Linked DNA regions of Homo sapiens. Changing the gene in region 1 together with any one later gene gives a genetic interaction. Each region holds a gene or a part of one and is shown on either strand. Other genes may lie near its edges. The genes, in order: TGFB1 and HIF1A.

What was found.
Region 2: of TGFB1 (region 1) and HIF1A, changing one enhances a phenotype caused by changing the other (phenotypic enhancement), as found in Homo sapiens cells (one study listed by BioGRID).

Annotation. Positions count from the first base shown.
Region 1 is NC_000019.10:41,333,269-41,348,701, reverse strand, and holds part of TGFB1 (transforming growth factor beta-1 proprotein preproprotein), read left to right. Parts: intron 1-246; coding exon 247-407; intron 408-3,837; coding exon 3,838-3,955; intron 3,956-6,454; coding exon 6,455-6,532; intron 6,533-6,668; coding exon of another isoform or gene 6,669-6,671; coding exon 6,672-6,819; intron 6,820-15,433. UniProt on the Homo sapiens protein: Transforming growth factor beta-1 proprotein: Precursor of the Latency-associated peptide (LAP) and Transforming growth factor beta-1 (TGF-beta-1) chains, which constitute the regulatory and active subunit of TGF-beta-1, respectively.
Region 2 is NC_000014.9:61,732,829-61,748,261, forward strand, and holds the end of HIF1A (hypoxia-inducible factor 1-alpha), read left to right. Parts: intron 1-1,309; coding exon 1,310-1,457; intron 1,458-4,060; coding exon 4,061-4,281; intron 4,282-5,258; coding exon 5,259-5,545; intron 5,546-7,676; coding exon 7,677-7,799; intron 7,800-7,926; coding exon 7,927-8,360; intron 8,361-11,876; coding exon 11,877-11,985; intron 11,986-12,862; coding exon 12,863-12,989; intron 12,990-14,105; coding exon 14,106-14,257; 3' UTR 14,258-15,430; downstream 15,431-15,433.

The DNA.
Region 1 (15,433 bases):
CAGTGAGCAGAGATTGCGCCACTGCACTCCAAGCCTGGGTGACAGAGCGAGTCTCCGTCTCAAAAAAAAAAAAAAATTCATTTAAATAAATAAATAAATAAATAAATAAATAAATAAATAAATAAAAGGTATCAGAGACTGACTCCACCCCAGAGCTGTCAGCTCCAAAACTCCTAGAGTTGGGAGCACCAGCTCCCCTCACCTCTGCCAAACCCCTGATCGCCTCCCTTCATTTCTCCCTGCTAGAAATCTATGACAAGTTCAAGCAGAGTACACACAGCATATATATGTTCTTCAACACATCAGAGCTCCGAGAAGCGGTACCTGAACCCGTGTTGCTCTCCCGGGCAGAGCTGCGTCTGCTGAGGCTCAAGTTAAAAGTGGAGCAGCACGTGGAGCTGTACCAGGTGAGGACATGAGCCAGAAGGAAGGTCAGGGCATGGGCTGGAGAGGGTGAGCTGTGACCAAGGGGGTGGCTGTGGGTCGGCTGGTTACAAGGTCCACCTAGATGGTCCCTGAAGGATAGAAGAACACAAACCATACAATCCTAGAACGCTTTTTTTTTTTTTTTGAGACAGTGTCTCACTCTGTTGCCAAGCTGGAGTGCAGTGGTATGACCTCAGCTCACTGCAATCTCCGCCTCCTGGGTTCCAGTGATTCTCCTGCCTCAGCCTCCCAAGTAGCTGGGATTACAGGTGTGCGCCACCACGCCCAGCTAATTTTTGTATTTTTGGTAGAGATGGGGTTTTACCATGTTGGCCAGGATGGTCTCGATCTCCTGACCTCGTGATCCACCTGCCTCGGTCTCCCAAAGTGCTCAGATTACAGGCGTGAGCCACTGCGCCTGGCCTCTTTTTTTTTTTTTTTTTTTTTTGAGATGGAGTCTTGCTCTGTCGCCCAGGCTGGAGTACAATGGGGTGATCTCGGCTCACTGCAACCTCCGCCTCCTGGGTTCAAGTGATTCTCCTGCCTCAGCCACCCGAGTAGCTGGGATTACAGGCATGTGCCAACACGCTGGGCTAATTTTTGTATTTTTAGTAGAGACAGAGTTTTATCATGTTGGCCAGGCTTGTCTCAAACTCCTGCCCTCAAGTGATTCTCCTACCTGAGCCTCCCAGAGTGCTGGGATTACAGGTGTGAGCCACTGCACCCGGAACCTAGAGCACTTTTAAATGTTCAGACTCTTTGCATCCTAGGATGTTAAACACTTAGAAGGCTGGAATCTTAGGAGTTGGACTCTTTAAGGACACAGGATTCTTGAAAGTTGGAATCTCTGAAAAGGTTGGGGGCTCTAGAATCATTCTGTCCAATATGACAGCCACTAGTCACATTTAGCTTGATTAAAATTTAAATTGTTTAAAATTAAATTAAAAATTTAGGGCCAGGCATAGTGGCTCACACCTCTAATCCCAGAACTTTGGGAAGCCGAGGCAGGCAGATTGCTTGAGCCCAGGAGTCCGAGACCAGTCTGGGCAACATGTTGAAACTTCGTCTCTACAAAAAATACTAAAATTAGCCTGTTATGGTGATGCGTGCCTCTAGTCCCAGCTACTCAGTAGTCTGAGGTGGGAGGATTGATTGAGCCCAGGAGGTCGAGGCTGTAGTGAACTGTGATTGCACCACTGCATTCCAGCCTGGGTGATGGAGCGAGACCGTCTCAAAAATATATATATATAGGCCAGGCGTGGTGGCTCATGCCTGCAATCCCAGCACTTTGGGAGGCCAGGGTGGGTGGATCACTTGAGGTCAGGAGTTCAAGACCAGCCTGGCCAACATGACGAAACTCCATCTCTACTAAAAATACAAAAATTAGCCAGGTGTGGTGGCAGGCACCTGTAATCCCAGCTACTTGGGAGGCTGAGGTGGGAGAATCGCTTGACCCCAGGAGGTGGAGACTGCAGTGAGCGGAGATCATACCACTGCACTCCAGCCTGGGCAACAGAGCGAGACTCTGTCTCAAAAAAATAAAAATGAAAAAGAAATCCTCATTCTCACTGGCCATATTTCTAGTACTCTATAGTCACATGTGGTTAGCAGCTACTATTTTGGATGTTGCAGATAAAGCACATTTCCAGAAAGTTCTTTAGGACAGCACTGCTCTAGAAGATAGGGAGCTTCCAAGAGGACTGGGGCATCTGGAAGGGCTGGAGGCTCTAGCAGTTTCTATGAGCTAGAATCCATATCAGAGGGAATGTTAACTCATAGGATGGTAGATTTCAGACTTTCACAGTGAGAGAACTTTGTCCTATGTTAGCTTGGCTTCTTGGAGTCTGGGGAATTCAGCTTTATTCTGCAGTCCCTGGAGTGGACTATCCAGCCCCAGAAAATTCTTCTTTTTTTTGTGTGTGTGTGTGATGGAGTTTTGCTCCTGTTGCCCAGGCTGGAGTGCAATGGCACCATCTTGGCTCACCACAACCTTTGCTTCCTGGGTTCAAGCGATTCTCCTGCCTCAGCCACCCGAGCAGCTGGGATTACAGGCATGCACCACCACACCTAGCTAATTTTGTATTTTTAGTAGAGACGGTGTTTCTCCATATTGGTCAGGCTGGTCTCGAACTTCTGACCTCTGGTGATCCACCCTCCTCGGCCTCCCAAAGTGCTGGGATTACAAGCGTGAGCGACTGTGCCTGGCCCAGAAAATTATTCTACACAGATGTTGGGTACCTGCAGCATCTAGGTGCGGCATGGCAGACTCTTGGGTTTATAGAACATTAGTCTTCTAAAGCTTCTCAGGCTCTAGAAGTGGAAATCTTGGGATATTATCAAACATTTGAATCACAAAATGACTTTTTTTTTTTTTGAGACAGAGTCTCACTCTGTCACCCTGGCTAGAGTGCAGTGGTGCAATCTCGGCTCACTGCAACCTCTGTGTCTTGGGTTCAAGTGATTCTCCTGCCTCAGCCTCCTGAGTAGCTGGGATTACAGGCGTGTGCCACCACGCCTGGCTAATTTTTGTATTTTTAGTAGAGACGAGGTTTCACTTTGTTGGCCAGGCTGGTCTTGAACTCCTGACCTCAGGAGATCCACCCGCCTTGGCCTCCCAAAGTGCTGGGATAACAGGCGTGAGCCACCGTGCCCAGCCGGAATCATTAGAAATGACTTCTAAGTTACTGAGAATTCAGGGTGTCAAATTTGCAGAACCGTATGCTCAGTAAACCCCAGAATGTTTGCAGCAGAATTTTATTTTATTTATTATTATTATTTTGAGACGAAGTCTCGTCCTGTCGCCCAGGCTGGAGTGCAGTGGCGTGATCTTGGCTCACTGCAGTCTGTGTCTCCCGGGCTCAAGCAATTCTCCTGCCTCAGCCTCCCAAATAGTGGCGACTACAGGCGTGTGCCACCATGCCTGGCTAATTTTTGTATTTTTAGTAGAGATGGGGTTTCACTATGTTGGCCAGGCTGGTCTTGAACTCCTGACCTCAAGTGATCCACCCACCTTGGGCTCCCAAAGTGCTGGGATTACAGGCGTGAGCCACTGCGCCCGGCCCAGAATGTTAGCAGCAGAATTTTAGCATTGTGGGCTGTCCACGCTGAGTGGGGCTTAGCATTTCACCAATGAGGAAACAGGCCTCGAGAAGGCAAGAAAACACCTTCGGCTGAGCTGTGTGAAGGTGACTTGACCGCAGCCTGAGCTTTTTCTCCACCCCTCCTCTCATGGGTACTGTTGGGGAGGATGGGTGCCACAGGACCACACAGGTGGCTGTCTGAGAGGGTAGTGCCTGGGAACTTTCTGGAAGCCTGTTTGGGGAAGCAGATGGGGTGAAGGATTCAGTTAGTGTATGTGGGGTCGTGACACCATCTACCCACTGTCTCTCTCCTGCCTTCATCATCCTCTAGAAATACAGCAACAATTCCTGGCGATACCTCAGCAACCGGCTGCTGGCACCCAGCGACTCGCCAGAGTGGTTATCTTTTGATGTCACCGGAGTTGTGCGGCAGTGGTTGAGCCGTGGAGGTGAGGATTACTTGTGTGTCCCACCCCTGTTTCTCCCTGGGGTCCACCCCATTGTTTGTCCTGGGGTCACTTTGCCTAGGACCCCTCTCCGCCCCATACTGGTGTGAAAGTGCTGAGACCTGGCTCCCCTCTGTGGCATGGAAACCTGAGTGATTGGCTAATCTGTTTCCTGAGCACCTCTCTGCCCTGCCCTGTGATGGGTGATGCCAAGGACACAGCAATGACCAAAACAGCCCCATCCTTGCCCTCACAGAGCTCATATAGTCCATTGGCTAGGTAGCTGGGGAACAGACCTGTAAGGCAGTGATGACCCAGAGTGGGTGGGACTGGGATGGGGAGCCCAAAGGAGGTACCTGACCCAGCCCAGAATCAGGGAGGGCTTCCTGGAGGAGGGGCACCATAGCTGATGTTGAAGGGATGAGTAGAATGGTCAGGAAAAGGAGAGGTGTAAGAGTATTCTGGGGCTGGGCATGGTGGCTTATGCCTATAATCCCAGCACTTTTGAAGGCCAAGGAGGATGGATCACTGGAGCTCAGGAGTTTTGAGAGCAGCCTGGGCAACATGGCGAAACCCGGTCTCTACACAAAAATACAAAAATTAGCCATGCATGCTGTTACGTGCCTGTAGTTCCAGCTGCTTGGGAGACTGAGGTGGGAGAATCACCTGAGCCTGGGAGGTCGAGGCTGCAGTGAGTCATAATCACACTACTGCAATCCAGCCTACATGAAAGAGTGAGATCCCATCTCAAAAAAAAAAAAAAAAAAAAGATTCCAGGCAAAGGGAACAGCCTGTGCAAAGGCCTGGAGGCCAGGGAGAGCCTAACTAACTCATTTGATCTGTCCAGGAGATGATTGTCTCTGTCTGGTTTCTGGCAGGGCCCATGGTGCCCCTATCTCTCTCCCTCACCTCCCTCTCATTTATGCTTTTATTCAATAATTGCCCACAGGTTCCTGCTGTGTGCCTGGCCATGTGCTGGGTGGTGTGGGGGACATAGTGATAACCAAGACAGCCCTCAGTTCTGCCCTCATGGGGCCCACAGTCACTTCTGGACACCTAAGAGATCTTGTCAAGGCCCCACCAGGCAGGAATGACCTAGAATGATCAAGAATGGGATGGGGAGGCACCAGCAGGGAGGACAAGGCTGGGACAGGGAGGCATGCAGGATGGGGGAACGCCCTAAGTGCTGTTGGGAGCCCAGAGAAGGCACCTGGACCCATCTGGGGAGTCTAGGAGGGCTTGCTGGGTGAGGGTGATTGTGTGGAGACTCACAGGATAAATAGTAGTTTGGCCACATGAAAAAAAAGGGATTAGGGGGCCTGGCATGGTGGCTCACGCCTGTAATCCCAGCACTTTGAGAGGCCGAGGTGGGTGGATCACCTGAGATCGGGAGTTCGAGACCAGCCTGACCAACATGGAGAAACCCCGTCTCTACTAAAAATACATAATTAGCTCGGCGTGGTGATGCATGCCTGTAATCCCAGCTACTCGGGAGGCTGAGGCAGGAGAATTGCTTGAACCCAGGAGGTGGAGGTTTCAGTGAGCCAAGATCGTGCCATTGCACTCCAGCCTGGGCAACAACAGTGAAACTCCGTCTCAAAAAAAAAAAAGAAAAGAAAAAGAAAAAATAGGGATTAGGGAGCAGGTGGGCACTGGGAGGAGTGTCCTGGGCTGTTCGACAAAGGCCTAGAAGGAGCTCATCTGTCTTGGTCAATGCTGAGTCCCAAGCACACAGCACAGGCTTCGGCACATTGTAGGAGCCTAGAAAACATCATTCACTCATTCATTCAAGAGATTGATGCTGGCTGGGTGCAGTGGCTCATGCCTGTAATCCCAGCACTTCGGGAGGCCAGGGCAGGAGGATTGCTTGAGCCCAGCCTGGGCAACATAGTGAGACCTCTGTCTCTACAGAGAATTTAAAAAGTAGCCGTGTAGGCCGGATGCAGTGGCTCAAGCCTGTAATCCCAGCACTTTGGGATGCCAAGGCAGGCGGATCACCTGAGGTCAGGAGTTTGAGACCAGCCTGGCCAGCATGGTGAAACCCCATCTCTACTAAAAATACAAAAAATTAGCCGGGTGTGGTGGCGCATGCCTGTTATCCCAGCTACTTGGGAGGCTGAGGCAGGAGAATCGTTTGAACCTGGGAGGTGGAGGTTGCAGTGAGCTGATATCACGCCACTGAACTCCAGCCTGGGCAACAGAGCCAGACTCCATCTCAAAAAAAAAAAAAAAATTAGCCATGCGTGGTAGCACGCGCCTGTGGTCCCAGCTACTCGGGAGGCTGAGATGGGAGGATTGCTTGGGCCTTGGAGATTGAGGCTGCGAGACCTTGTCTCAAAAAAAAAAAAAAAAAAAAAAAGAGAGAGCTGCAGTGAGAGGGCAGAGTGGGGTGGGTGGGGGAGGCAGGAAGGAAGCCCCTGGGGTTTGCTCCTTCCTTCCTCTTCCTCCAGGGGCTGGGTGAGCTGCACTCTCAGACTGGCTTCCCTCTCGCCACTCCTACAGGGGAAATTGAGGGCTTTCGCCTTAGCGCCCACTGCTCCTGTGACAGCAGGGATAACACACTGCAAGTGGACATCAACGGTGAGGCCTGCTTCCCCGGCCATGCCCAGTTGTGACGTGTGTGCGTGTGTGTGTTCCCATCTGCCCCACGCCCCACTTATCTATCCCTCTGAGAGTGTGTGTGTATGTCCCCTATCCCCTGACTCCCACACCAAAGCAGGGTTCACTACCGGCCGCCGAGGTGACCTGGCCACCATTCATGGCATGAACCGGCCTTTCCTGCTTCTCATGGCCACCCCGCTGGAGAGGGCCCAGCATCTGCAAAGCTCCCGGCACCGCCGAGCCCTGGACACCAACTATTGCTTCAGGTGAGCCTTGTAGCCTGGATGGAGGCCTTCCAGGCTGGGGGCATGACTGCCATCTGCTGACCAGGTGCTCCAGGTTGGACACCTGGCTGCTGCTGTGCTTGGGCTGAGCATCTGTCTCCTTTAGCTTGGAGGGCTCAGGGGATGAGGTCTGGGTGTAAGAACCAGGAGTCTTGTGCCAGGTGCGGTGGCTCACGCCTGTAATCCCAACACTTTGGGAGGCTGAGGCAGGTGGATCACCTGAAGTGAGGAGTTTGAGACCTGTCTGGCCAACATGGTGAAACCCGTCTCTACTAAAAATCCAAAAATTAGCCAGGCGTGGTGGGCGCCTATAATCCCAGCCACAAAAAACAAAAAAAGAACTGGGAGTCTTGTAATGTTGGGATCAGGTTCCTTTTTTTTTTTTTTTTTTTTTTTTTGAGACAGAGTCTCGCTCTGTCACCTGGGCTGGAGTGCAGTGGCGCTATCTTGATTCACTGCAAGCTCCACCTCCCGGGTTCACACGATTCTCCTGTCTCAGCCTCCCGAGTAGCTAGGACTACAGGCACGTGCCACCACGCCCAGCTAATTTTTTTGTATTTTTAGTAGAGATGGGGTTTCACTGTGTTAGCCAGGATGGTCTCCATCTCCTGACCTCGTGATACACCCACCTCAGCCTCCCAAAGTGCTGGGATTACAGGCGTGAGCCAACGCGCCCGGCCTAATTTTTTGTATCTTTAGTAGAGACTGGGTTTCACCATGTTAGCCAGGATGGTCTTGATCTCCTGACCTCGTGATCCGCCTGCCTCAGCCTCCCGAAGTGCTGGGATTACAGGTGTGAGCCACCACGCCCAGCCTTGCTTTCTTGCTGGAGTGTTGGAATCACAGAATGTTAGAAAGTTGAACCCTGTGATTGTTGGAATTCAAAGTTGGAAGGTCACCATCTTGAATCCCTAAATTGTTGGCAGGTTGAGGTTCTAGAATGCTGGGATTCTAGAATGCTAGAATTTGGTGTTAATTACTGAAATGGAAAATGTCGGACTCAAGGAAAGCTGAAACATTGGAATCCTAGAATTTGGGGATTCAAAATGGGAAGATGGCCCATGTGGAATTCCTGCACCACTGGCCAATTGTGGATACCAGTGTTGGCAGATTGGAGTCCTTGAATATTGGGCTCACAGTGGTAGAATTCTGTTTTGAAATATTCACATCCACAAATGTTGGAGTTGGAGAAAGCAGAATATTGGTATCTCAGCATGTTGGAACTCAGTGTTGGAATGTTAGAATATTAGAATGCTGGGATTTTATTAATAGAAAGTGGCAGCAGGCTGGGCGCGGTGGCTCACGCCTATAATTCCAGCACTTTGGGAGGCTGAGGTGGGCGGATCCCTGAGGTCTGGAGTTCAAGACCAGCCTGGCCAACATGGTGAAACCCCATCTCTATTAAAAATACAAAAATTAGCCAGGTGTGGTGGCTGGCACCTGTAATCCCAGCTACTCGGCTGGGATTACGGCTATCCAGGTACCCAGGCTGGGGCAGGAGAATCACTGGAACCTCGGGGGTGGAGGTTGCAGTGAACCGAGATCGCGCCACTGCACTCCGGCCTGGGCAATGATGCGAGACTCCATCTAAAAAAAAAAAAAAAAAAAAAAAAGAAAGAAAGTGTCAGTTTGAACCTCTTGAGTGATGGCTCAGAACTTTGGAATGTTGGGATGCAATACTGGCATACTGGAATTCAGGAATGCCAAGATCCTCAAAGGTTGGAAAGGGGGAATCCTAGAGAGTTGAAGATGCTGTCAGAATGTTAGAATCATAAGATGCTGGAATGCTAATACTGCAATCTAAGAAAGCTGAAATGTTGGATTCCTAGAAAGTTGAAATGGAGAGTTAGAATGTTGTAAATTTAGAGTGATCATCTGACCTTATTCCTCCCTTGCTTAAAATATTTTGGTCCTGTCTCTGGGCTTTGTTACCGGCTGTTTCCCTGCCAGAAAATCAGCCCTGCTCCCAGGCTCCTTCACCACCAGATCTTAGCGCCATCAGCCCAGCAACGCTGTCAATGAACAAATTGAGGTCTTTTTTGAGACAGAGTCTCGCTCTGTTGCCCAGGCTGGAGTGCAGTGGCGTGATCTCGGCTCACTGCAACCTCCGCCTCCCAGGTTCAAGTGATTCTCCTGCCTCAGCCTCCTGAGTAGCTGGGATTACAGGCGTGTGCCACCACACCCGGCTAATTTTTGGTTTTTTTAGTAGACACTGGGTTTCACCATGTTGGTCAGGCTGGTCTCGAACTCCTGACCTCGTGATCCACCCGCCTCGGCCTCCCAAAGTGCTGGGATTACAGGCATGAACCACTGCGCCCGGCCACAAATTGAGGTCTTGAGTGCCAACAGCTCCTGACATTACAAAGGGAGATAGCCAGCCATGTCAGCCTCCGTAGGGAGGGACCCAATGTTGCCTAGGAAGTCTTGGCAAAAAATCAAACCTGAAGGCCAGGTGCGGTGGCTCATGCCTGTAATCCCAGCACTTTGGGAGGCCAAGGCAGGCAGATCGCTTGAGCTTAGGAGTTCAAGACCAGCTTGTGCAACATGTTAAAACCCTGCCTCTGTACAAGAAATACAAAAAAACTAGCTGGCTGGGTGGTGTGTGCCTGTAGTCCCAGCTACTTGGGAGGCTGAGGCAGGAGTGCTTGAGCCTAGGAGGTTGTGGCTGCAGTCAGCCAGGATCACGCCACTGCATTTCAGGACAGAGCAGGACCTTGTCTCAGGAAAAAAAAAAAAAAATCAAACCTGAATCTGATCAGGACTGTAGATCCTAACAGTTTTCTAGAAAGACAGGAACAGAGGAAATGGTCAGCAAAACTCAGACTGCAAGAAACCTCACCCAGTTTCTTCATCAAATACAATGCAAAGAAGGGGAAAGCACACACACACACACACGTACCCCCCATGCAACCAAAAATTCACATACAAGTTTTGACTCCCCAAAAACTTAACTATTAATAGCCTACTGTGGACTGGAATTCTGCTTTATCCACAACATAAACAGTTGATTAATACTTTTTTTTTTTTTTGGAGACAGAGTCTCTGTCATTCAGGCTGGAGTGCAGTGGTGCGGTCTCGGCTCACTGCAGCTTCTGCCTCCCGGGTTCAAGTGATTCTCTTGCTTCAGCCTCCCGAGTAGCTGGGACCACAGGTGCCCACCGCCACGCCCAGCTAATTTTTTGTATTTTAGTAGAGATGGGGTTTCACCGTATTGCCCAGGCTGGTCTTGAACTCCTGAGGTCAGGCAATCCGCCCACCTCAGCCTCCCAAAGTGCTAGGATTACAGGCATGAGCCACTGCTCCCGGCCGAATAATACATATTTTGCATGTTTTATGTATTATGTCCTATATCCCCTTTTTTTTTTTTTGAGACGGAGTTTCGCTGTTGTCACTCAGGCTGGAGTGTAATGGCACAATCTCAGCTCACGGCAACCTCCACCTCCCGGGGGTTCAAGCAATTCTCCTGCTTCAGCCTCCTGAGTAGTTGGGATTATAGGCACCTGCCACCATGCCCGGCTAACTTTTGTATTTTTAGTAGAGGTGGGGTTTCACCATGTTGGCCAGGCTGGTCTTGAACTCCTGACCTCAAGTGATCTACCCGCCTCAGCCTCCCAAAGTGCTGGGATTGCAGGGGTGAGCCACGCACCCGGCCGTATTCTTTGTTTTTTTTTTTGAGACAGAGTCTAGCTGTGTCACCCAGGCTGGAGTGCAGTGAAGTGATCTCAGCTCACTGCAACCTCCGCCTCCCAGGTTCAAGCAATTCTCCTGCCTCAGTCTCCCAAATAGCTGTGATTTCAGGCATCCGCCATCGCACCCGGGTAATTTTTGTATTTTTAGTAGAGACGGGGTTTCACCATGTTGGCCAGGCTGGTCTTGAACTCCTGACCTCAGGTGATCCATCAGCCTCGGCCTCCCAAAGTGCTGGCCTTACAGGCTTGAACCACTGCTCCCGGCCTATGCCTGCATTTTAAAAATAAGATAGAGAAAAGAAAATGTCCTTAAGAAAATCATAAGGAAGAGGAAGTATATTTTCCATTCATTGAGTGGAAGTGGCTTATCATAAAGGTCTTCATGTTGAGTAGGCTGAGGAGGAGGAAGAAAAGGTGTTGGTCTTGCTGTCTCAGGGCAGAGGTGGAAGAAAAATTCACCTGTAAGTGGTGAATTTTGTAAGAGGACCCATGTAGTTCAAACCCATGTCCAAGGGTCAGTCTATATATAGTTGACCCTGAATATATATACAGAGAGAGAGAGAGATGATTTTGTAGATTTTGAAAAAAGTCCTAAGAGAGGCCAGGTATGGTAGCTCACACCCGTAATCCCAGCACTTTGGGAGGCTGAGGCAGGTGGATCACTTGAGGTCAGGAGTTGGAGACCAGCCTGGCCAACATGGTGAAACCCTGTCTGTACTAAAAATACAAAAATCAGGCCAGCTGTCGTGGCTCACACCTGTAATCCCAGCACTTTGGGAGGCCAAGGTGGGTGGACCACCTGAGGTCAGGAGTTCGAGACCAGTCTGGCCAACGTGGTGAAACCTCCTCTCTACTAAAAATTCAAAAATGAGCCAGGCGTGGTGGCGGGCCCTGTAATCCCAGCTACTCTTGAGGCTGAGGCAGGAGAACTGCTTGAACCCAGGAAGTGGAGGTTGCAGTGAGCCGAGGTCGCGCCATTGCACTCCAGCCTGGGCAACAAGAGTGAGACTCCCGTCTCAAAAAAATAAATAAATAATTAAAAATACAAAAATTAGCAGGGTATGGTGGCAGGCGCCTGTAGTCTTAGCTACTTGGGAGACTGAGGCAGGAGAATCACTTGAACCTGGGAGGCACAGGTTGCAGTGACCCGAGATTGCACCACTTCACTGCATCCTGGGTGACAGAGTGAGACTCCATCTCAAAAATTAAAAAAAAAAAAAAATCCTAAGAGACATATCAACCAATTGCAATGTGTAGACCTTACTTGAATCCTTATTTACACAGGCTTAAAAAAAAAAGATATTTATGAGACAGTTGGGTAAATGTGAACTCTGTCTAGATATTCCTCTAGATATCAAGGAATTGTTAATTTTCTTACATGGTATTGTGACTGTGTTTTAAAGTAGTCTTAATTAGAGATACATTTGAAATATTTATGGATGAAGCAACACGGTGGATTGCATGTGCTTTGAGATAAACCATTGTCGGCTGGCTGCAGTGGCTCACAGCTATAATCCCACCACTTTGGGAGGCCAAGGCAGGAGGATTGCTTGAGCCTAAGAGTTGGAGACCAGCCTGGGCAATATGGTGAAACCCCATCTCCCAAAAAAAAAAATATGAAAAGTAGCTGGGCCTGGTGGTGTGTACCTTTTGTCCCAGCTACTCAGGAGGCTGAGGTGGGAGGTTGGCTTGAGCCCCAGGAGCTGGAGGCCACAGTGAGCTGTGATTGCACCACTGCACTCCAGCCTGGGTGACAGAGTGAGATCCTGTCTCAAAAAAAAAAAAAAAAGAGATAGTGGATAGGGGTAGAGATGCAATGGAAATTGGCCATGAGTTGGTCATTGTTGAAGCTGCTTTTGTGTACATCTGAAACTTTCCAGCTGGACGCGGTGGCTCACACCTGTAATCCCAGCACTTTGGAAGGCTGAGGCGGGTGGATCACATGAGGTCAGGAGTTCGAGACCAGCCTGTCCAACATGGTGAAACCCTGTCTCTACTAAAAATACAGAAAAATTAGCTGGGTATGGTGGTGTGTGCCTGTAATCCCAGCTACTTGGGAGGCTGAGCCAGGAGAATTGCTTGAACTTGGGACATGGAGGTTGCAGTGAGCCAAGATTGCACCACTGCACTCCAGCCTGGGGCAACAGAGCAAGACTCCATCTCAAAAAAAAAAAAAAAAAACTTTCATAGGAAAATTTGTTCTTAAGGCAGCTCGAACACTACCTCCTTCCTAACCCCTTTCTCCAACATCCAAGATGGATGTGAGGCCTCTGGGCTCCCCTGGGGCCCTAAGTAGATCTTTGACTCAACAAACAGTCTCTGTTGGGTCTTTTATTTATAAAAAGTTTTGTAGCGACAGGGTCTCACTATGCTCCCCAGGCTGGTCTTAAACTCCTTGGGCTCAAGCGATTCACCGGTCTTGGCTTCCCAAAGTGCTGAGATTACAGGCGTGAGTCACTGCACCTGGCCTAGGTCTTGAGAGACTGGACGGAAGAGGCTTGGCAAGGGCAAGGGCTGTGGGTATCCCAAGGCCCGGTGCAGGGTAGGCCCCGAATGTGTGCTGAAAAAATGAGTCAGAGGATCACCTAGACGGCTTGTTCAACACGGACTGTTGTTCCCAGTCCTGCACACAATTTCTGATTTCAGTGGCCTGGGGTGCCACCTGAGAATCTGCATTTCCCATAGTTCCCAGGTGATGCTGCCGCTGGTCCTGGGAGCTCACGTGGAGAGCTGCTGACTTGGATAACAGTATCACAGATTGTTCAAATCCTAGGATCTCAGAACCCCAGCTAGGGTTGAACTGCATATTAAAGATGATTCTGAGCCGGGTGCGGTGGCTCATGCCTGTAATCCCAGCACTTTGGGAGGCCGAGGTGGGTGGGTCACCTGAGGTCAGGAGTTTGAGACCAGCCTGACCAACATGGTGAAACCCAGCCTCTACTAAAAATACAAAAAATTAGCCAGGCATGGTGGCACATGCCTGTAATCCCAGGTACTTGAGAGGCTGAGGCAGGAGAATTGCTTGAACCCGGGAGACGGAGGTTGCAGTGAGCTGAGATCACACCATCGCACTCCAGCCTGGGCAACAGGAGGGAAACTCCATCTCAAAAAAAAAAAAAGATTCCGGACACTAGTTCTTCCCCTTTTGTGAGTTCAGAACTTCCTGTGAGAAAGTGAAAGCCAGGACTCTTTTTCCCAGAAATACATGCATACATACACACATGTGCATATGATCTCAGGCACTCATGGCCCTCCCTAAGCCTGCCCATGATGGCCCCTTGGCCCTCAGCTTAACACCTTATTTTATCTAGTAGCTCCTACCTCTGAACAGATGAGGAAACTGAGGTCCAACCAAATTGGGTGGTACGGGCTGAGTTCACAGGGATCTCAGTTTCTTGACTTCCTTCTCAGGCTTCTGTGGCTCTTGGAAAGGCTTTATCTTGCCTCTAGGTTATCCGGTGCCACTTGAAGTTGGGTTCAAGCGATTCTCCTGCCTCAGACTCCCCAGTAGCTGGGATTACAGGTGCCCGCCACCAGGTCCAGCTAATTTTTGAATTTTTAGTAAAGACAGGGTCCTCAAGTCTGCCTGCCCTAGCCTCCCAAAGTGCCGGGATGACAGGCGTGAGCCACCGTGCCTGGCTGGCCCCACCAATCTATGAGCAGAGGTTGCAGTGAGCCAAGATTGCACCACTGCACTCCAGCCTGGGTGACGGAGCAAGACTCTGTCTCAAAAAAAAAAAAAAAAAAAAAAGGCATTGTCAACTTTTTCTTTTCTTTTCTTTCTTTTTTCTTTTCTTTTCAAGACAGAGTCTCACCCTGTTGCCCTGGGTGGAGTGCAGTGGCACGATCTTGGCTCACTGCAACCTCTGCTTCTTGGGTTCAAGCAGATTCTTGTGCCTCAGCCTCCTGAGTAGCTGGGATTACAGACAAGCACCGCCACACCCAGCTAATTTTTGTATTTTTAGTAGAGACGGGGTTTCGCCATGTTGGTCAGGCTGGTCTCAATCTCCTGATCTCAGGTGATCCACCCGCCTTGGCCTCCCAAAGTGCTGGGATTACAGGCGTGAGCCACTGCACCCGGCCTCTTTGACAGTTCTAAGAAGTAAAATAAACCAGAAGAAGGCAGGCAGAGAGTAATAGATATTGGGAACTGTTATTTTTCCTATTCTGATTTAAATTCCTTTATTATGGAAAATTTCAAATGTATACAAAAGCAATGAAGATAATGAATGCCCGTAAACTCTCATCCAGCGTCATCGGTAATTAAGATTTTGCCCCATTTCAAATGCAGACATTTTTATATTTTCTTGCATAACTGCAATACCGTATTGCACTAAATGGAACTAACAGTCACTTGGATATTTTGGAAAGGATGGCTCAGAAAGGTATCTCTGAGGAGGTGATGTTCAGTCATGTAACTGATATTTACTAGTACCTACTGCATTCCAGACACTGCTTTAGGAGTTAAGGGTCCCTGAGTGAAGGACATTTGAGCTAAGGTTTAAATGAAGTGAAGGGGCCAGGTGTGGTGGCTCATGCCAGTAATCCCAATGCTTTGGGAGGCCGAGGCGTGCGGATCGTTTGAGCCCAAGTTCGACACCAGCCTCAGCAACATAGTGAGACCGTGTCTCTAAAAAGAATAACAAATTAAAAAGAATAAATAGGCCAGATGCAGTGGCTCAGGTCTGTAATACCAGCACTTTGGGAGGCTGAGGTGGGCGGATCACAAGGTCAGGAGTTCGAGACCAGCCTGGCCAACATGGTGAAACCCTGTCTCTACTAAAAAGACAAAAAAATTAGCCGGGCATGGTGGCACACGCCTGTAATCCCAGCTACTCGGAAGGCTGAGGCAGGAGAATCGCTTGAACCTGGGAGGCGGAGGTTGCAGTGAGCCGAGATCATGCCAC
Region 2 (15,433 bases), on another chromosome or scaffold:
TGGTTGGTATGTAAAAGGCACTCAGAAAGTATTTGTACAATCAATGAATGTGAAGGTGGTGAACATCACCTTTGGTAATAAGTACCATTTTAAAAAATGCTTATAAGTGCATAGTTAGGTATTTATATTTATGGGTTCATGAAATATTTTGATATAGGCATGCAGTGCATAAGGATAAATGGAGTACCTATCACCTCAAGCATTATCTTGTGTGACAAACAATCCAGTTATACTCTTTTGGTTATTTTTATTTTATTTTATTTTATTTTTTTCTTTTGAGACAGGATCTCACTCTCGCCCAGGCTGGAGTGCAGTGGAGCAATCTCAGCTCACTGCAACCCCCGCCTACCGGGTTCAAGAGATTCTCCTGCCTCATCCTCCCAAGTAGCTGGGATTATAAGCATGTACCACCATGCCTGGCTAATTTTTGTATTTTTAGTATAGACAGGGTTTTGCCATGTTGGCCAGGCTGGTCTCGAACTCCTGACCTCAGGTTATCCACCTGCCTTGGCACCCGGCCTCTTTTAGTTTCTTTAAAATGTACAATTAAATTATTTTTTACTATAGTCACCCAAAACAAGTACCTTTGACATAAGATTTGATTCTGAATTTTACTCAAATGAATGTTAAGATCCCCAAGATAAGTTAAACTTTGGACTATCTCACCTGTTTAATCTGTACCTATGCATGACTTCCCACTGTGCTTGAGGATACCTGAATATCACTGAGTTTGTGTGACTGATCAGCCTTGAACTCAAGAGTAAATCCAAGTCTGCAGTCAGGACACCCCAATCCTCAAAATAATACCATCATTAGCATTTATTTAGTACTTTCTCCCAAATCAGTATTTAATTTAAATTGCCAAAAGACTTACAATGTGGTATCAATTTATATTTAAATATGCTACATATAGCTTTTTAAAGCATCTTTGGTTCTCTGGAAACCATAGTCAGAATTTAAGGAAGTTATTGTGGCACCATTTTCTTGAAAAAGGCTATTGATTATTCTCTAATCTGACACCAACCTAAGTCATTAAAGGAATTTTAGTTACTGAAGATTGTATATTCATGAACTCTTCACTTAGCTCACTGGCAGCAAAGGAGTTTTATTTAGGGGGTTTGAAAAAGGAAATGGGTACATTTTCAGCTATTCTGGGACGCACTGTCAGAATGTAAGCAGTTACAACTGATTCCACTAAATAAACATTTGTTTTCCAAAACAATGATGAACATTCAGCATCTGTTCATTTAATTGAAAATTCAAAGTTAAAATATTTTCTCTGCATGATTCTTTTTCTTTTCCCCCCTAGTGTTTACTAAAGGACAAGTCACCACAGGACAGTACAGGATGCTTGCCAAAAGAGGTGGATATGTCTGGGTTGAAACTCAAGCAACTGTCATATATAACACCAAGAATTCTCAACCACAGTGCATTGTATGTGTGAATTACGTTGTGAGGTAAGTAAGTTTGAGAAATAAACATTTTTGGGGAACAAATAGTAATTCTTTTTGGATACTCTGTTCATTTATAGGAAGATAAGATAATAAATATTAACTAAATTTTAATTCTTTTACATCGCTACCAAATTATTATTTTCTATACTCTGACCTAGGTTTCCAGTCCAGCTATTCCACAGTGATGCTGCTAAACACTGTCAGTAGTTGTCTATCCCCATACCTTCACTCCTATTTTTAAAAAGACCATGAAAAAAATACCAGATCCATTGATTGGTTTGGTCTAATTATACAGATATCGGCATATACTATCTCAAGACAGCTGTGTTCTTTTTGTAGGAAGAATCCTGGCCTAGATTTGTATCATAGCTCTACCACTCATTAGCTCCCTGACCTTGGGGAAGTCTCTTCATTTTTCTGAATTTCATCTATGTAGATAATCCTTCAGAAGGTTATAATGAAAATTAAATGAAATTCTATGAGATTAGGGAGGGGGGAGGGATAGCATTAGGAGATATACTTAATGTGAATGATGAGTTAATGGATGTAGCACACCAACATGGCACATGTATACATATGTAACAAACCTGCACGTTGTGCACATGCACCCTAGAACTTAAAGTATAATTTAAAAAAGAAAAGAAATTCTATGAGATTAATAAGCTATATGATGTAATACATGGCTCTTGTATATTCATGAACTCTTCACTTAGCTCTTTGGCTTGTGAATATTATGTACATCAAAATTTAATTTTTCATTTGATCTATTTTACTAGACTCCTGCCCCATCTAGTCTACCTGTCCACATTATTACCACATTCTAGTCCATCTTGCCCATTACTACCAGGCTAAGCTTTCTAGTGTGGATATGTCATCATCTTATTTTCCTTAGAATTTTAGCGATCTTTTTATCATTTCCAAGATAAACACTTGCCTAGGTGTACAGCATCCTTGTTTACCATCATACTCACGCATTAGAGATTTAGCCTTCCCTTTAAAATCTAGGGTCACTCCTCTTAGGAAGACTTTGGGCAGTTTTTATTTTTGCTACTTCTGACACCATCCTTTAATGTTTTAATATTAGTGCCACAGAGTTCTTTTGTGACTTTACCATTATGTAAGAATCTTCCACTTGGAATGTCTTTCTCTTCCTCACACCCCAGTCTGCCTAGCAAATGCCACTTGATCCCAAGTATCAGCTTGTTAGCTTCTCAGTGAAGCAAGCCTTCTCTATTTTAGCAGTTATCACAGTGTATTTTAATTGTTTACATATCTACTTTCACAATGGGTTATAAATTTCTTAAGGTCAAGGGTTGGCTATTTTAATCTTTGCATTATCAGTTCATTTCAGATAGTGAACATTTAATACGTTAATTAAAGGAATAATTTACATTTAAGCCAAACGTGAAGATAAACTATTGCTCATCATCCCTCTTCAGCCGTATCCTGTAGGTGGTATCACCTTATATTCTTACCACCAAAGAAAATATGGCCCCTCTCTTAGAAAGATCTTAATCATTTATCTGTGTATCTTTAGGACTATCCTTAGATCATGCCTCACATATTGATGCCAAAGAGTTCTTTTGTGCCAATTTCATAATGTGTGTCAGCACAACAATTCTGAAGATTTGTTGGTGTCTTTCATGTACTTGACTACAAATTGCCTTGCCATTACTACTCTTCTCAAAGGATATCTGAAATTCTTTTTTTCTTTTTTTTTTTTGAGATGGAGTCTCACTGTCACCCAGGCTGGAGTGCAGTGGCGTGATCTTGGCTCACTCCATTTCCCGAGCTCAAGTGATTCTCATGCCTCAGCCTCCCAAGTAGCTGGGACTACAGGTGTGCACCACCACACCGGGCTAATTTTTTGTATTTTTAGTAGAGACAGGGTTTTGCCATGTTGGCCAGGCTCTTGAACTCCCAGGCTCAAGCGATCCACCCGCCTCAGCCTCCCAAAGTCCTGGGATTACAGGCATGAGCCACCACGCCCAGCCTGGATATCTGAAATTCTTAACTGAAATTAGTCAAATTATCTTGTACTGGGGATTTTTTTTTTAATTTCAACTTTTATTTTTGATTCAGGGGATACATGCATAGGTTTGTTACATGGGTATATCATGTGATGCTGAGGTTTGGGGTACAATTGATCCTGTCACCCAGGTAGTGAGCATAATACCCAACAGTTGTTCAACCCTTGCCCCTCTCCCCTAGTAGTCCTCAGTGTCTATTGATGCCATCTTTATGTCCACAAGTAACCCAGTGTTTAGCTCCCACTTACAAGTGAGAACATGCAGCATTTGGTTTTCTGTTCCTGGGTTATCTCACTTAGGATAATGGTCTCTGGATGCATCCATGTTGCTGCAAAGGACATTATTTCATTCTTTTTTATGGTTGCATACTGTGGATTTTATTGGGTCTTTATTTTGTATTAGCATTTTAAAACCCTAAATGTGACACAGTACGCATGAGTGATCATGCATCTCAAGAAATCTTGAAATGTTCCTGTCCATAAAGCAGAATTTTTTAAGAGACCATTTCACAGTCTCCCTTCCCCTCACTGTATCAAGTGCTCATTTGTGAATTACCAATTTCTCTTGTTTTGACAGTGGTATTATTCAGCACGACTTGATTTTCTCCCTTCAACAAACAGAATGTGTCCTTAAACCGGTTGAATCTTCAGATATGAAAATGACTCAGCTATTCACCAAAGTTGAATCAGAAGATACAAGTAGCCTCTTTGACAAACTTAAGAAGGAACCTGATGCTTTAACTTTGCTGGCCCCAGCCGCTGGAGACACAATCATATCTTTAGATTTTGGCAGCAACGGTGAGTAGTTATTTTTGTTAATCCCCTAAATTGTGTCTGTTGCTACAAGCCCCATTTCAACTAAACATTACTTTACGGTTTTTGTTGGTAATCATTTGGACATTACAAGCTAATATATGTTTATAGTTTTCTTAAATGTATTTGCTTAAATATTTTTGCCCCCGTAATTTCTTACCATTCTTGCTTTTTTATACTGTTGGAAATTGTGCTTCAAAGTGTCCTTAAGGTATTTCTTCTTCCCACATAAATTTTTCCTGGCTACTCTATTTCTGTATCCTGCTGTCAGATTTTCTCCACAGTTTAGCAGAGTTATATGGAAGTAGGCATTGTTGCATTAAAGGATAAAAAAGTAGTCATACTATAACATCAAGCATTGAAGATGAAAACTGCAATTTTAAAGTAGAGAACATTTTAATGTATAAAAAGGTTGGTATTGCCTTTTGTCTTTTATGCCATAGAGATTAAGACGCGGTATCAATAGTGGATTGTAAAGGTAACTCAGACTTATGGTTATACTATACTATTGTATGTAAACTTTCTGATGAAGGAAAATTTGGTGACATTTTGTTGTTTGATGAATTAGACAAACCTTTTGTGAAAAAGAACATAAATTTTTTATATGTGAAAATCCTTGTGGCCGGGCGCAGTGGCTCACGCCTGTAATCCCAGCACTTTGGGAGGCCGAGGCGGGTGGATCACTTGAGGTTAGGAGTTCGAGACCAGCCTGGCCACCATGGTGAAACCCCGTCTCTACCAAAAATACAAAAGTTAGCTGGGCGTGGTGGTGTGCGCCTGTAATCCCAGCTACTTGGGAGGCTGAGGCAGGGGAATTGCTTGAACCTGGGAGGCAGAGGTTGCAGTGAGCCAAGATTGCGCCATTGCACTCCAGCCTGGGCAACAGAGCAAGACTCTGTCTTGGGTAAAAAAAAAAAAAAATCCTTCTATACTTTAGATTGACTCATATTTTTTCCCCACAGACACAGAAACTGATGACCAGCAACTTGAGGAAGTACCATTATATAATGATGTAATGCTCCCCTCACCCAACGAAAAATTACAGAATATAAATTTGGCAATGTCTCCATTACCCACCGCTGAAACGCCAAAGCCACTTCGAAGTAGTGCTGACCCTGCACTCAATCAAGAAGTTGCATTAAAATTAGAACCAAATCCAGAGTCACTGGAACTTTCTTTTACCATGCCCCAGATTCAGGATCAGACACCTAGTCCTTCCGATGGAAGCACTAGACAAAGTTCACCTGAGGTAGGTGTCATGATATAATCAGAAAGGGACAACTTTCAGATTTTAACATTCAAGAATGTATTTATAAGTTTGATTCAAACACTTATTTGAACCACAAATTACATTTGTGTGTGTGTTTGAATTTTAGCACTTTAAAATTATTGCAAGAGCTACTGCCTAACCTAGACCTGAGCACATGTTTTAGGCTCAAAGATAGTCAGGAACATGGGAAGAAACTAGCTTAATATAAACCAAAAGGTGAAACGTACATTGTTTCTCTATTATTTATATCAGTAGGACAAAAACATCTTGAATTTGGACATTTAAAGAGAATAGTACTAAGTGTGCTCAAGGTAGCTACAGCCTATACCTGTTACCCCTTTTAGTTTGTTTTATTGTGTTTTGTTTTGTTTTGAGAAAGAGTCTCACTATCACCCAGGCTGGAGTGCAGTGGTGCAATCACAGCCTCAACCTCCCAGGCTCAAATGATTCTCCCACCTCAGCCTCCCAAGTAGCTGGGACTACAGGCCTGCATCACCATGCCTGGCTAATTTTTTAACCTTTTTTTGTGTGTGTGTGTGGAGTTGGGGTTCTCACTATGTTGCTCAGGCTGGTTTTAAACTCCTGGGCTCAAGCGATCCTCCTGCCTTGGCCTCCCAAAGTACTAGGATTACAGGCGTGAGCTACCATGCCTGGCCCATTACCCCTTTGAGTTGGAGAACTGTCTGGTAGCAATAGACTTACGAGGGTTTAAATGGGAAAGGACCTTATAAATTCTTTGCCCAATTTAGTCTAATTTCCATCACTATTTTGAAATTTTGGGTAAGTATAATATGAAAATAACAAGTGTTACATAAAATAAATACTTAGTAACTGGTCTTTTTTATTCTGGATCTGTCTTGATATTAATTGTCCTATGAACACAAAAATAATCTTTAAAGGCTAGGCTGGCCAAGACTTAGAGATATCACACAGGGCTCTATTTCTAAATCTAGAATGATTCCATTTTAGGGCTTCCTACATCTAAAAATATGCTCAGGAGTAGGGCAACTTAGATCTGAACATTATAACTTGATAAATGAGGCATAAATAAGCTTTAATAAGTGGTAAATAATTCTACATTAGGTATTTGTTGAATAAAACTGACAAGCTAAGAGTAGGGGATTTGACATCTCACAGCCTTGTGTTGAATGAATATATATCCTATGCTCTGGTTGCTTAATTTACCCAGAAAAAAAAATGTTTGATTCATCTTGGTTTTTATCTAACAAAAGTAAATCTAACAAAAACGTTAGAATGAGGAAAGCAAAATTTCTTGTTTAGAATACACAGCTATAGTTTTTTGTTAAACTTCTTGCCCAGAACTCTTAAAATAGTAATAATGTACATTCGTTCAGGTATATGCAGGTAAAATAACTTAGGTTTCTACTCCCACCCCCGACAGTAACAGTGAGATTTTTAGGTAGCTCAGTCACCACAGGAGTGTGCCTTCTCAGTTCAAAGGTAAATTCCAGTGAATGTAGCATCTAGTTAATTGGTCAATTAGGTACCATTGTGGGATGTGAATTACCAAATAGGTTTTATTCTTTAGAATAAGGTGTTTCTTTTCATCTCAATTTTGTAAATGATGTTATATTACATAGTCAGAAATATATATATTGGCAAAATTAGTTACCAGTATAAGCTTCAAAATGTCACTATTTTCACAAATTTTTTTTTTTTTTTTTTTTTTTGACATGGAGTCTCACTCTGTCGCCAGGCTGGAGTGCAGTGGCATGATCTTGGCTCACTGCAACCTCTGCCTCCCAGGTTCAAGTGATTCTCCTGCCTCAGCCTCCTGAGTAGCTGGGATTACAGGCGTTTGCCACCATGCCTAGCTAATTTTTGTATTTTTAGTAGAGACGAGGTTTCACCATGTTGGCCAGGATGGTCTCGATCTCTTGACCTCATTATCCCTCCACCTTGGCTTCCCAAAGTGCTGGGATTACAGGCGTGAGCCACTGAGCCCGGCCTAGTTAAATAAAATTTGATAAACACGATGGACTTGGTTGTGTGTTTTCTGGTTTTTCTGAGATCTAGTTTGAAAATTCTGACAACTAGCAAAGTATATGGAAGCTTCTTCAGGAAATAGTAAACATATTTCTTTTTACAGCCTAATAGTCCCAGTGAATATTGTTTTTATGTGGATAGTGATATGGTCAATGAATTCAAGTTGGAATTGGTAGAAAAACTTTTTGCTGAAGACACAGAAGCAAAGAACCCATTTTCTACTCAGGTATATGAACTTATTTGTTTTATATTAAATTTCATTAATTTTTAGTCTGAAGTGACTTTGAGTTTCACTTGTTTTTTATTTATAAGGTGTGGCCATTGTAAAAACTCATGTATTTGCTGTTTTAAAGGACACAGATTTAGACTTGGAGATGTTAGCTCCCTATATCCCAATGGATGATGACTTCCAGTTACGTTCCTTCGATCAGTTGTCACCATTAGAAAGCAGTTCCGCAAGCCCTGAAAGCGCAAGTCCTCAAAGCACAGTTACAGTATTCCAGCAGACTCAAATACAAGAACCTACTGCTAATGCCACCACTACCACTGCCACCACTGATGAATTAAAAACAGTGACAAAAGACCGTATGGAAGACATTAAAATATTGATTGCATCTCCATCTCCTACCCACATACATAAAGAAACTACTAGTGCCACATCATCACCATATAGAGATACTCAAAGTCGGACAGCCTCACCAAACAGAGCAGGAAAAGGAGTCATAGAACAGACAGAAAAATCTCATCCAAGAAGCCCTAACGTGTTATCTGTCGCTTTGAGTCAAAGGTATTTATATGTAACATTCAAGTTATAGTTCTTTTATTATTTTTGAGATAAATGTATGTGATAGTACATGATTTTTAAACTTATAGCAAACTTTCTGATATATATGCCCTAACGCAAATTCTTGAGAACTCAAAAAACTTTCTAAATTAACCTCATATATTTTTTCTTTTTCTTTCTTTTTTTTTTTTTTGAGACAGAGTCTCGCTTTGTCGCCCAGGCTGGAGTGCAATGGCATGGCACCATCTCAGCTCACGGCAACCTCTGCCTCCTGGGTGCAAGAGATTCTCCTGCCTCAGCCTCCCGAGTAGCTGGGATTACAGGCATGCACCACCACGCCCGGCTGATTTTTTTGGTATTTTTCATAGAGACAGGGTTTCTCCACGTTGGTCAGGCTGGTCTCAAACTCCCGACTTCAGGTGATCCGCCTGCCTCAGCCTCCGAAAGAGCTGGGATTACAGGTGTGAGCCACCATGCCCGCTCCTATTTTTTCTAAAATAATTATAAATTCTAAAATTACCTATCTAAATGGAGGAGGGTCTTCTGACACCTTTAAAATAAAATCCAGCTCAGTACTGTAAATGTGTTTACAGAACTTGTTTAAAGTTCTTACAGTTGTTTAAATCAGACTAGTTAACTACCCTCACTACTTAGATGCTTCCATTTCTTAGAGCTCTTTTTTAAGCTTATCTGAAGAAAAGCCCTTCCAATTTAAGGGTTATTTCCAATTGCACATTCCAAATTGAGCCTTCCATCTTCAGCATTCAATATAGATATTTACAGGCCCCTCTTTTAAAATTTTATTATAGTTAACTTGTATTAAAGTTGCTTTTATTTTTCATTACGTATTTGTAGAACATTAGCTATATATATATTGCAGGCTACATAGGTTTTCAAACTGTACAACAGGAATCTAAGCATGAATTGTTACTTCTATGGAGCTAGTTCAAACAAACATATGGACATGACCCAATTTTTAAGTTATACTTTCTGTATATAATTTGTAAGGGGATTTCACATATTTTAAGTTTGAGGCTATAGCTAGAAGAAATTAAGTTTTATCTAATAAGTGTGTGGAAAAGGGAAATGATTCCTTCTCTACTATGTCTAGACTAAGCCAGATATCAATAGCAATAGGAAAGAACCACTGTCGTAGCCAGAACACATAGCTTTTTTCCCTGCCTAACATTCCCACCTTGACCTAGAGTGCTGGGAGAGGTCTTTTCCCTAAGCTTGGAAAAGACATTGGGGCTTTAGATGAACTCAGAAGTACTTTACATTACTTTATTTACTGTGTCACTTACTCACTTTTGACTCTGAGCTCCACGAGGGCAATCACAGTGTCTTGGGCATTTTAGTGATACTAATACTTAGCTCATGACCTAATGTGTAGTACTTCCTCAATAAATGGTTGTTGAGGCAGGGCGCAGTGGCTCATCACTGTAATCTCAGCACTTTGGGAGGCTGAAGCGGGTGGATCACCTGAGGCCAAGAGTTTCAGACCAGCCTGGCCAACATGGTGAAACCCGGTCTACTAAAAATGCAAAAATTAGCTGGGCGTGGTGGCACGTGCCTGTAATCCCAGCTACTTTGGGAGGTTGAGGCAGGAGAATTGCTTGAACCCTGGAGGTGGAGGCTGCAGTGAGCCGAGATCGTGCCATTGCACTCCAGCCTGGGCGAGAAGAGTGAAACTCGGTTTCAAAAAAAAAAAAAAAAAAAAAAGTTGTTGGACTGACAGATGCATGAATACAGTAGTAAAAATGACAATCACTTATAAGTTACAGTTTACTATCAGCTACAGAGGATGGGATATCCAGTTTTCTGAACAACTGTTCTCTTGTACTTGTCAAAGCCAAAGTGTAACAACACATCAAGTCACTTTAGCAATTTATTTTTGAGACGGAGTTTTGCTCTTGTTGCCCAGGCTGGAGTGCAATGGCGTGATCTCGGATCTTGGCTCACCGCAACTGCCGCCTCGCTGGTTCAAGCAAATCTCGTGCCTCAGCCTCCCGAGTAGCTGGGATTACAGGCATGCACCACCACACCCAGCTAATTTTGTATTTTTAGTAGAGACAGTGTTTCTCCAGGTTGATCAGGCTGGTCTCAAACTCCCGACCTCAGGTGATCCACCTGCCTCAGCCTCCCAAAGTGCTGGGATGACAGTTGTGAGCCACTGTGCCCAGCTAGCAACTGTTTTTAAACATTAGTTCCAATGTAGTGTACACTGAAAACTTTTATGAAAGGAATTTCAAAAATTAAGATAAACCATTAAAAACGTAATTACTAAGTACTACTACTACTACAATGATATTTACATAATAGACTGAGTTACATTTCATAAAGACAATATATCTGTATAAGAATTTTTAAACTTCCCTGTCTATATAATAGAAGTTTTAGAGAAATTTTTTAAAAACCAAAGAAAACTGCAAAATAAGATCACTTACCTATTTGGCATTCTCAACTGTCTGGAACAGCAAGGAGCCATTATGATTATGCATTTGGTTTGTGGGGTGTCTTGAAAAGTCAAAATAATGTAACAAAGCTGATGTACTTTACTCATTAGAACAATTCTTCACAATTTAATATTAATTTTAGATATACATAGTTCATGTTTGATAACCAGATCAATACTGAGTGAAAAATAGCATAGTGGGAAGAGCAGGGGAGGGGAGGTAGGGATCTGGAGACCTAGAGTGTACTTCCATATTGCAACTAGTGAGCAGTAGGACTTTGAGAAAGTTACCCAATAGGCCTCAGGGTTCTAATTTATAAAATGGGTATGATATGCCTGCCTTATCTGTCTTGGGAACTTAAGTAAGGTTAAAATGAACTAATGAACTTGAAATGTTTTATAAACTGAAAATGCTATACGAATGTGAGATTGATCTTGTATTTCAATAGTCCCAACAATATCACTGCATTGTTATATTAGGTGGAATAAAAGGACAATATTTAACTGTTTTGACTCTACAATAGTGTCAATTTAGTTGTGTTCAGCTCTATTTTATAAAATAGGGATACGCATACTGTAGAAAATTTCCTGTTAAATTAAGCTTTGACGGCCAGGTGCTCACGCCTGTAATCCCAGCACTTTGGGAGGCCAAGGTGGGCAGATCACTTGCGCTCAGGAGTTTGAGACCAGCCTGAGCAACATAGTGAAATCCTGTCTCTACAAAAATATGTATATATAAATTAGTCATAATCCCAGCTACTTGAGAGGCTGAGGTGGGAGGATCACTTGATTCCAGAGGCAGGGCTTGGTTGCAGTAAGCAGAGATCACGTCTCTGCACTCCAGCCTGGCTGACAGAGTAAGACCGTGTTTCACCAAAAAAAAAAAAAAAAAATTAAGCTTTTACTTTTAAGATGATAAACTTTAGTGATCAGGAAAGTTATCTTATGTATATTATATTCCTTAATATTGGAGAACTAAAGAATTATGTATTTTCTTTAAAAGCGCTCACTGGATATTTTTTTTAAAAACGCTATATTTTCATTTAGAATTTTTTTCTTTTCAGAACTACAGTTCCTGAGGAAGAACTAAATCCAAAGATACTAGCTTTGCAGAATGCTCAGAGAAAGCGAAAAATGGAACATGATGGTTCACTTTTTCAAGCAGTAGGAATTGTAAGTATGAGTAGTAGGTTTTGCTTTTCTAGCTAATGTGCTATTTCGTGTGTGTGTGTGTGTGTGTGTGTGTGTGTGTGTTTCCACGTTTCTTCCAAATAGTAAAGTTATATTTTCAGAAGTTATACATTGGGTTTTTTTACTCTGTATGCACTGGTTTTTAAAAATACAAATGTTTAATACATACATTCTTGGTATAAAAATTCCAAACAATTCCAGTGTATTTTGAGTTAAAAAGTGAAGTTCTCCCCTTACTCCACCCTGAATATCACCACCAATCTCATTCTCTTCCCTTTAAGTTACTTTGCCTTATTAAAAGAACTGCTATTGGCCAGGCACAGTGCCTCACGCCTGTAATCCCAGCACTTTGGGAGGCCAAGATGAGGATCACTTGAGGTCAGGAGTTCGAGACCAGCCTGGCCAACTTGGTGAAACCCTGTCTCTACTAAAAATACAAAAATTAGCCAGGCGTGTTGGTGCACAACTATAATCCCAGCCACTCTGGAGGCTGAGGCAGGAGAATAGCTTGAACCCGGGAGGTGGAGGTTGCGATGAGCTGAGATCAGGCCACTGCACTCCAGCCTGGGTAAGAGAGTGAGAGTCCATCTCATATTTAAAAAAGAACTGCTATGTTTTGGGGTAAGTCAATGGTGGTATAATACATTCTGATATTTTCAAACTAAATTAACTGGAAAGTATTTATAGACAGAATGGTCATAATGGATGACAAATAACTTAAGAAAGAATTCAAAATAATTTAGGGTAGTATTTAAGAAACTGCCTATAATGTTATTAAATTTACACCAATTTCAAGGTTTTTGGTTGTTTAAAAAAAAAATTCAACAAACTAAACTTGAAATAACTTTACTGTTTATAGGGAACATTATTACAGCAGCCAGACGATCATGCAGCTACTACATCACTTTCTTGGAAACGTGTAAAAGGATGCAAATCTAGTGAACAGAATGGAATGGAGCAAAAGACAATTATTTTAATACCCTCTGGTTAGTTTATTCTTTTTGACCTTGAACATCACAAAGACAAAATACATGAAACATTTTTATTTAGGAGCTTTAATCTAAGTGAGAATGACTTTGGTTCCTTAGCAAGATTAAAAAGTAAAGTTGTGGCTGGGCGCGGTGGCTCACACCTGTAATCCCAGCACTTTGGGAGGCCGAGGCAGCCAGATCATCTGAGGTCAGGAGTTGGAGACCAGCCTGGCCACCATGGTGAAACCCCGTCTCTACTAAAAATACAAAAATTAGCTGGGCGTGGTGGCGGGCGCCTGTAATCCCAGCTACTTGGGAGGCTGAGGCATGAGAATTGCTTGAACCCGGAAGGCAGAGGTTGCAGTGAGCCAAGATGGCACCACTGCACTCCAGCCTGGGCGACAAGGGTGAGACTCTGCCTCAAAAAAAAAAAAAAAAAAAAGTACAGTTGTATTTCATGTGATGGTCTTAATACAGAGATTAACATTTCAAGGTGGAGCTTTTCATTTTTAGTAATTTTCTTTGATTTCTCTATGTCCATGTGCTGTCAATATTGATAGAAGCTGAAATTTGTGAACTTTTATGACTTCTTTTTTTTTTTTTTTTTTTTTTGAGACAGGGTCTCGCTCTGTTGCCCAGGCCTGGAGTGCAGTGGCATGATCATAGCTCACTGCAGTCTCAAACTCCTGTGCTCAAGCTCAAGCAATCATCCTACCTCAGCCTCCTGAGTAGCTCGCACTACAGACATGCCTCACCACACCCGGTTGCTTTTTGTAGAGATGGGGTCTCACTATGTTGCCTAGGCTGGTTTCAAACTCCTGGCCTCAAGTGATCCTCCTGCCTCAGCCTGTGCTAGGATTACAGGCATCAGCTTTGATGCCCACCATATTTATGCCTTTTTCCAAATTGTTATTTCTTTGTGCCTTTATTGTATCCTGTAAACATTTCTGACACAGCAACAGTATCACTGGATTATACTTACTTTTTAACATAGTTGTGGTTTTGCCAGGTAAACTAAAAACCCTTCCAGAATTTTGCTTTATTTTCTATGATACCTAACACATTGTGGGTGTTTAATAAATATTCATTGACTAGATGAATGTATACTTAGGTATCTCTTTTGTTTTTCAGATTTAGCATGTAGACTGCTGGGGCAATCAATGGATGAAAGTGGATTACCACAGCTGACCAGTTATGATTGTGAAGTTAATGCTCCTATACAAGGCAGCAGAAACCTACTGCAGGGTGAAGAATTACTCAGAGCTTTGGATCAAGTTAACTGAGCTTTTTCTTAATTTCATTCCTTTTTTTGGACACTGGTGGCTCATTACCTAAAGCAGTCTATTTATATTTTCTACATCTAATTTTAGAAGCCTGGCTACAATACTGCACAAACTTGGTTAGTTCAATTTTGATCCCCTTTCTACTTAATTTACATTAATGCTCTTTTTTAGTATGTTCTTTAATGCTGGATCACAGACAGCTCATTTTCTCAGTTTTTTGGTATTTAAACCATTGCATTGCAGTAGCATCATTTTAAAAAATGCACCTTTTTATTTATTTATTTTTGGCTAGGGAGTTTATCCCTTTTTCGAATTATTTTTAAGAAGATGCCAATATAATTTTTGTAAGAAGGCAGTAACCTTTCATCATGATCATAGGCAGTTGAAAAATTTTTACACCTTTTTTTTCACATTTTACATAAATAATAATGCTTTGCCAGCAGTACGTGGTAGCCACAATTGCACAATATATTTTCTTAAAAAATACCAGCAGTTACTCATGGAATATATTCTGCGTTTATAAAACTAGTTTTTAAGAAGAAATTTTTTTTGGCCTATGAAATTGTTAAACCTGGAACATGACATTGTTAATCATATAATAATGATTCTTAAATGCTGTATGGTTTATTATTTAAATGGGTAAAGCCATTTACATAATATAGAAAGATATGCATATATCTAGAAGGTATGTGGCATTTATTTGGATAAAATTCTCAATTCAGAGAAATCATCTGATGTTTCTATAGTCACTTTGCCAGCTCAAAAGAAAACAATACCCTATGTAGTTGTGGAAGTTTATGCTAATATTGTGTAACTGATATTAAACCTAAATGTTCTGCCTACCCTGTTGGTATAAAGATATTTTGAGCAGACTGTAAACAAGAAAAAAAAAATCATGCATTCTTAGCAAAATTGCCTAGTATGTTAATTTGCTCAAAATACAATGTTTGATTTTATGCACTTTGTCGCTATTAACATCCTTTTTTTCATGTAGATTTCAATAATTGAGTAATTTTAGAAGCATTATTTTAGGAATATATAGTTGTCACAGTAAATATCTTGTTTTTTCTATGTACATTGTACAAATTTTTCATTCCTTTTGCTCTTTGTGGTTGGATCTAACACTAACTGTATTGTTTTGTTACATCAAATAAACATCTTCTGTGGACCAGGCCC